Homo sapiens: one gene and its partner. The protein of the gene in region 1 interacts with the protein of each later gene in a pairwise test. Each region holds a gene or a part of one and is shown on either strand. Other genes may lie near its edges. The genes, in order: TRAIP and POLH.

Evidence for each region.
Region 2: the proteins of TRAIP (region 1) and POLH interact in a two-hybrid assay, tested with the Homo sapiens proteins (one study listed by BioGRID).

The regions. Positions count from the first base shown.
Region 1 is NC_000003.12:49,849,780-49,853,697, forward strand, and holds part of TRAIP (E3 ubiquitin-protein ligase TRAIP), read right to left. Parts: intron 1-3,918. UniProt on the Homo sapiens protein: E3 ubiquitin ligase required to protect genome stability in response to replication stress.
Region 2 is NC_000006.12:43,607,124-43,611,041, reverse strand, and holds part of POLH (DNA polymerase eta), read right to left. Parts: intron 489-3,918; coding exon 319-488; intron 1-318. UniProt on the Homo sapiens protein: DNA polymerase specifically involved in the DNA repair by translesion synthesis (TLS). Due to low processivity on both damaged and normal DNA, cooperates with the heterotetrameric (REV3L, REV7, POLD2 and POLD3) POLZ complex for complete bypass of DNA lesions.

The DNA of each region.
Region 1 (3,918 bases):
GGAAAATGATACCATCATCCTGGCCTCAAAGATTCCTATAAGTACATTTTCTTTTCTTTTCTTTTTTTTTTTTTTTTTTTTTTTTGAGATGGGGTCTCAATCTGTCACCCAGGCTGGAGCGCAGTGGTGTGATCTTGGCTTACTGCAACCTTCGCCTCCCAGGCTCGAGCAATCCTCCCACCTCAGCCTCCCGAGTAGCTGGGACCACAGGCGTGCACCACCATGCCCAGCTAAAATTCCCATAAGTTTTCAAATACCATGTACAACATATAATCAAGAGTAACCAGGCGCAGTGGAATACTACACAGCAAGAATAAATGAGTCTACAGCTAAGAACAATATTATGAATAAATCACAAAAACATAACACTGAGGAAGAGAAGCCAGATACAAAAAGTTATATTTTGTATGATTCTATTTACACAGTTTAAAAGTAGGCAGGCCAGGCCCAGTGGCTCACGTCTGTAATCCCAGCACTTTGGGAGGTCGAGGCGGGTGGATCATCAGGTCAGAAGTTTGAGACCAGCCTGACCAACATGGTGAAACCCCGTCTCTACTAAAAATAGAAAAATTAGCCGGGTGTGGTGGCGCACGCCTGTAATCCCAGCTACTTGGGAGACTAAGGCAGAAGAATCGTTTGAACCTGGGAGGTGGAGGTTGCAGTGAGCCGAGATCACGCCACTGCACTCCAGCGTGAGGGACATAGTGAGACTCTGTCTCAAAAAAAAAAAAAGTAGGCAAAATTCATCTATGCTCTCAAAGTCAAGACAGTAGCTATCTTAATATGGGGAGGTGGAGGGAGGTGTTGGTAGGGGTTGGAAGAGCATATAAGGAGGTTTCTAGAAGGTTTCTAGAGCTGATAATAGTCTGCATTTTTTTTTTTTTTTTTTTTTTGAGACAGAGTCTTGCTCTGTCAGCCAGGCTGGAGTTCAGTGGCACGATCTCGGCTCACTGCAACCTCCACCTCCCAGGTTCAAGCAATTCTCCTGCCTCAGCCTCCCGAGTAGCTGGGGTTACGGGTGCACGCCACCATGCCCAGCTCATTTTTATATTTTTTTAGTAGAGACAGGGTTTCACCATGTTGGCCAGGCTGCTCTCAAACTCCTGATCCACCCGCCTCGGACTCCCAAAATGCTGGGATTACAGGCATGAGCCACCATGCCCGGCCAATAGCCTGCGTTTTCCTGTTTTCTTTTTTTTTTTTGGTGGGGGGACTTTCGAGACAGGGTCTCACTCTGTCACCCAGGCTGGAATGCAGTAAAGCAATCATGGCTCACAGCTGACTCTACCTCCCAGGCTCAGGTGATGATCACCTCAGCATCCTGGGTAGCTGGGACCACAGGCACATGCCACTATGCTCGGCTAATTTTCTGTGTTTTTAGTAGAGATTTCATCATGTTGCTCAGGCTGTTCTAGAACTTCTGGGCTCAAGCAATCTGCCTACCTCAGCCTCCCAAAGTGCTGGGATCACAGGCGTGAATCAACACGCCCAGCCATACCCTGTTTCTTGATCTGAATTCTGGCTGCATAGATATGTTCAATTTGTAAACATTCTGTAAGCCATATACTTAGAATATGTGTACTTTTCTGAACTATATTATACTTCAATTTTAAAATGTTCTTTTTTTGAAATGGGGTCTCACTCTGTCATCCAGGCTGGAGTGCAGCAGCACAATCATGAGTCACTGCAGCCTCAACCTCCCAGGCTCAAGCGATCCTCCTGCCTCAGCCTTGCAAGTAGTTGGGACTGCAGGCACAGGCCATCATGCCCAGGTAATTTATATTTTTTTCACTTTTTTGTAGAGATGGGGTGTCACTGTGTTGCCCAGACTGGTCTTGGACCCCTGGGCTCAAGCAATCCAGCCACCTCCCAAAGTGCTGGGATTAAAGGGGTGAGCCATCATGCCTAGCCAAAAAAACACTTTTTTTTTTTTTTAAGACTGAGTCTCGCTCTGTCACCCAGGCGGGAGTGCAGTGGTGCAATCTCGGCTCACTGCAACCTCCACCTCCTGAGTTCAAGCGATTCTCCTGCCTCAGCCTTCCAAGTAGCTGGGACTAGAGGCGCCCGCCACCATGCCCGGCTAATTTTTTTGTATTTTTAGTAAAGACGGGGTTTCACCATGTTAGCCAGGATGGTCTCGATCTCCTGACCTCGTGATCCACCAGCCTCGGCCTCCCAAAGTGCTGGGATTACAGTTGTGAGCCACCGCGCCCAGCCAAAAAAACATTTTTTTAAGTAAACAGGTACACAAGAAAAAAAAGCACTATGAAAACAAACCAGAAGAAATGCCCACAAAGACTTTAGGTAGGCCAGGTGCAGTGGCTCACGCCTGTAATCCCAGCACTTTGGGAGGCCGAGGCGGGCAGATCACGAGGTCAGGAGTTCAAGACCAGCCTGGCCAACATGGTGAAACCCCGTCTCTACTAAAAATACAAAAATTAGCCAGGCACGGTGGCGAGCGCCTGTAATCCCAGCTACTCGGGAGGTTGACGCAGGAGAATTGCTTGAACCCAGGAGGTGGAGGTTGCAGTGAGCCGAGATCGGACCATTGCACTCCAGCCTGGGTGACAGAGCGAGACTCTACCTCAAAAATAAATAATAACACAGGATAAAAAAGTTAATGGAATAGAGGCAATATATGAAGAGATAATGGCTGATAATTTTCCAGAACTGATTAAAGAAATTGCTCCACACGGCCAGGCGCGGTGGCTCACGCCTGTAATCCCAGCACTTTGGGAGGCCGAGGCAGGCAGATCATGAGGTCAGGAGATCAAGACCATCCTGACTAACACAGTGAAACCCCATCTCTACTAAAAATACAAAAAATTAGCTGGGCATGGTGGCAGGCGCCTGTAGTCCCAGCTACTCGGGAGGCTGAGGCAGGAGAATGGCGTGAACCCGGGAGGCAGAGCTTGCAGTGAGCCAAGATCGTGCCACTGCACTCCAGCCTGGGTGACACAGCGAGACTCCGTCTCAAAAAAAAAAGAAAGAAAGAAAGAAATTGCTCTACACGTTAAAGAAATCTAATGAATCCCGAGCAGAATTTGTAAAAAGAAATTCGGCCAGGCACAATGGCTCATGGCTGTAATCCCGGCACTTTGGGAGACCAAGGTGGGAAGATCACCTGAGGTCAGGAGTTCGAGACCAGCCTGGCCAACATGGTGAAACCCTGTCTCTGCTACAAGTACAAAATTTAGCCGGGCATGATGACACGTGCCTTTAGTCCCAGCTACTCGGGAGGCTGAGGCAGGAGAATTGCTTGAACCAGGGAGGTGGAGGTTGCAGTGAGTTGAGATTGTCCCACTGTGCTCCAGCCTGGGCAACAGAGCAAGACTCTGTCTCAAAAAAAAAAAAAAGAAAAGAAAAAGGTAAAAAGAAATTCATATTGGATACACTATACCAAAACTGCAGAAAGCCAAAATCAGAGAAAATTCTAAAGGTAATGAGAGTCTGAGGATAAAGTTCCAAAGTATGCTTAAAGGAGTAACTGATAAACTAAAATCTGACTTCAATAGCTACAACGGAAGCTAGAAGTTGGATAAGGGCCGAGTGTGGTGGCTCACACCTGTATTCCCAGCACTTTGGAAGGCCAAGGCAGGAGGATTGCTTTAGGCCAGGAGTTTGAGACCAGCCTGGCTAACATAGCGAGACCTTGTCTCTAAAAACAATAATAAAATAAAATAAAATAAAACAGATGAAAAAAGATATACCATGCAGTCACCAAAAGACAGCTGAAGTGGCTATACTAATAGCAGATAAAATGGACTTTAAATTAGACAAGATAGGCCAGGCACGGTAGCTCACGCCTGTAATCCCAGCACTTTGGGAGGCCGAGGTGGGCGGATCACGAGGTCAGGAGTTTGAGACCAGTCTGGCCAACATAGTGAAACTCTGCCTCTACTAAAAATACAAAAAAAA
Region 2 (3,918 bases), on another chromosome or scaffold:
TCCTACTACTTGTAGAACTGAGACAGACCTCAGGTGATTCACCCACCTTGGCCTCCCAAAGTGCTGGGATTACAGGCGTGAGCCACTGCGCCCGGCCGATACTTTAATAATAACTTTAAAATGACATTTACCCTTTACCTCATTGAAGGACTAATCTGTACATAAAAGCATATTTCATCTTCTGAAATTCAGCTCATGTGAAAATTTGAGTGATTAGACACAATGAGGAACTTTATGATAAAAATTATGTCTTGTAGAGCTAAGACAGAGCTAAGAATCATCATCTATTCTGAGAAGATGAGCTAGAAAAGAACTCACCATTCTGTCTGGATTCCAGAAGTATTACAGTTCTTGATGACAGTAAATGCATCATGGCTCATCTTGTGAGCATCATAGCGGGTAAGGGCACAGCAGCGGCGCAGGCTGCTGAGGCGTTTGTCTCCTTGTACACGAATGCTCACAACCAGCTGGGTGGCTACCCTGTCATTCTGTGGGTGGAAAGGATGGAGACCAGAAATAAAGTTATGAGGAGCATCTGAATTCTAGGTACTGAACTGCAGGAGAGGAAATTAAAAGAACCAGGGTGACAATGGTTTGGAAACAGTAGTTTAAAAGTCAAGAATAAAGGTAAACTGAGTTCTGCAAAGAGTAAAGATAAAATATAAAAAAGAGAAAGAGGCCAGGCATGGTGGCTCACGCCTGTAATCCCAGCACCTTGGGAGGCTGAGACAGGTGGATCACCTGAAGTCAGGAGTTCGAGACTAGCCTGGCAAACATGGCGAAATCCCATCTCTACTGAAAAATACAAAAAAACTAGCCAGTCGTGGTGGCAGGCACCTGTAATCCCAGCTACTCGGGAGGCTGAGACAGGAGAATTGCTTGAACCTGGGAGGCAGAGGTTGCAGTGAGCCAAGATGGTGCCACTGCACTCCAGCCTGGATGACAGAGCAAGACTCTGTCTCAAAAAAAAAAAAAAAAAAAAAAAGAATCTATATATATGCAACAGAATGCATTTTCTGAATAGAAATCTGATTACATGGTTCCACAAAAAAGTGTTAATGCTATTTCTGGGTGTAAAAAGTAACTGAAGAAGACATAATTTGGATTATGGAACATCGGAGTATCCTAGGATGTTTTGACAGATGATGGGAACAGGACAGCACAAATGAAAATGGGACTCCCCTAAATGTTTTTCATGGTGTCTAAGCAGGACAATTATAACAAATATCTACAATACTAGATACTATTTTGTGACTGAAGGAAGGTTTCAGGTAAGTAATTGTCTGAAAGCAAAGTGGAACTAGGCTTCAAGTCATATCTTTTTTTCTGCCCTGGGGCTCTTATGGTAAACAAACATTCGCCACCAATTCCAGAAGTTTCTACCAACACCTTTTTACAGCTTATCTAGAGAAGATACCATATAGTGAGCCTGCCTTGAGAGAGCAAGATCATGACTCACTTTTCAGTGAAGTCTGAAGCATCTGAATGCTGTAATCTCAGCAAACTGAGACATAATGGTCAAGAGGCAGAAATATAAGAAGGTGAAAATTCTACATAAGGGACCCCTATCAAAAGATGCTAGTGAGAAGAAGTATCCCTAAGGCAAACAAGCTAAGAGCAGGAACTACTTTTTGGATAAAAAATACATTTGTATGGATTTATATATCTTGAGGGAATACAAATTAGCAATTATAAAGGAGTCCTTGTTGACCAAAATTATTCAACTATAACTGCATGCCTAGACAGTGCCTAGAGATGCAGGAGAGAACAAAATAAAGTCCAGGTCCTCATGGATCCTATGTTGTAGTAGGAACTATAGATAATAAAAAATAGACATGTAACAGAAATGACCACAGAGATGAGTGCTATGAAGAAAAGCAGAATAAGGCAGAGAGTGATGGAGGCTGCTGCTGTGATAGGGTAACTAGGGAGGACCTCCTGGAGAATGTAATACATGCACAGAGATTTGAATAAATCAAGGAAGCAAATATTAAGAATATATGAACAAAGAGTCTCCAGGGCAAAGAAACGGGAAGTGCTAAAGTAAGAGCTTACTTAGTGTGTTAGATAAAGGGAAGGAGGCCAGTGAAGTGGAGACTAGAATAAGTGAGGGGAAGATAAGAGATGGGGTCAGAGAAGTAGCAAGAAATTAGATTATATTTGGCTTTATAGAATTACTTTTAAAAAATTCCTTAATATGCCTTAAGTGTGAAGGGAAACCACTGGAATGTTTTAAACAGTGAAGTGATAGGATCTGCTATGTCCTGAATTATTTTTGGCATAAAGTCCTTTGAAGCTTAAAAGATAGATTTTCAGGGATCCCCACTGGATACAAAGAGGGAAGAAAAGGCTAGGCACAGTGGCTCATGCCTGTACTCCCAGCACTGTGGGAGGCTAAGGCAGGAGGATTACTTGAGCCCAGGAGGTTGAGGCTACAAGGCTGCAGTGAGCTAAGGTTGTATTACTGTGCTCCAGCACGGATGACAGCCAAGACCCTGTCTCTTAGGAAAAAAAAGTGGAAAGAAAGGCCCCAGGGACTTAGAGAGAGATGAGAAACAAGTGCCACCTAGTGGGCAAAAGCGGAAAAGGGCGATAACGCAACTGGATCAAATCCCTCTTTATGATGCCTACCAAAGGAACAAACATTTACCACCCATTCCAGCTAAAAAGGAGCAACGAGCAGTTTTGGACTATTCTTGACATGTACAGTTGACTTGTAGAACTCCAAGACATTTCAAAAGAAGAGGATGCATCAAACAATACCATTAGGAAAGTGAGAAGAAAACCCACAGAATGGGAGAAAATATTTGCAAATCACGTATCTGACAAGGGACATGTTAAAACTCAATAATAAAGAGACAACCCAATTTAAAAAAGGGGAGAGGATTTTTGTTTTTTCTTTTTTATTTTTGAGGTGGAGCTTTGCTCTTGTTGCTCATGCTGGAGTGCAATGGCGCAATCTCGGCTCACTGCAACCTCCACCTCCAGGTTCAAGCGATTCTCTTGCCTCAGCCTCCTGCGTAGCTGGGATTACAGGTGCCCGCCACCACGCCCAGCTAATTTTTGTATTTTTAGTAGAGACAGGGTTTCGCCATGTTGGCCAGGCTACCCTCGAACTCCTGACCTCAGGTGATCTGCCCACCTCGGCCTCCAAAAATTTGAGCCACCACGCCCGGCCCAGGAACAGGATTTCAACAAACATTTCCCCAAAGATATACAAATGTCCAACAAGCACATGAAAAGATTATCAGAGAATGTAAGCCAAACCATAATGAGATACCATTTCACACCCACTAGAATGGCTAAAATTTAAAAAGTCAGTAACAAGGATGTGGAAAAATTGGAACCCTCTTACATTGATGGTAAGGATGTGAAATGGTGTAGCCACTGTGGAAAACAGTCTGGCGATTCCTCAAAATGCTAAACATAGAGTTAACATATGACCCAGAAATTATACTCCAAGGTATATGCTGGAAAGAAAACAGGTGTCTACACAAAAACTTGTAGATGAATGTTCATATCAACATTATTCATAATAGCCAAAAGTGGAAATATACTCAAATGTCCATTCACTAATAAGTAGATAAGCAAAATATGGTATATATTAATACAATAGAATATTATTCAGCCATAAAAAGGTGTCAGTCCTGGCCGGGCGCAGTGGCTCACGCCTGTAATCCCAGCACTTTTGGATGCTGAGGCAGGAAGATCACAAGGTCATGAGATTGAGACCACCCTGGCCAACATGGTGAAACCCTATCTCTACTAAAAATACAAAAATTAGCTGGGCGTGGTGGCGCGTGCCTATAATCCCAGCTACTCGGGAGGCTAAGGCAGCAGAATCACTTGAACTGGAGAGGCGGATGTTGCAGTGAGCCGAGACTGCACTACTGCACTCTGGCCTGGTGACAGAGCGAG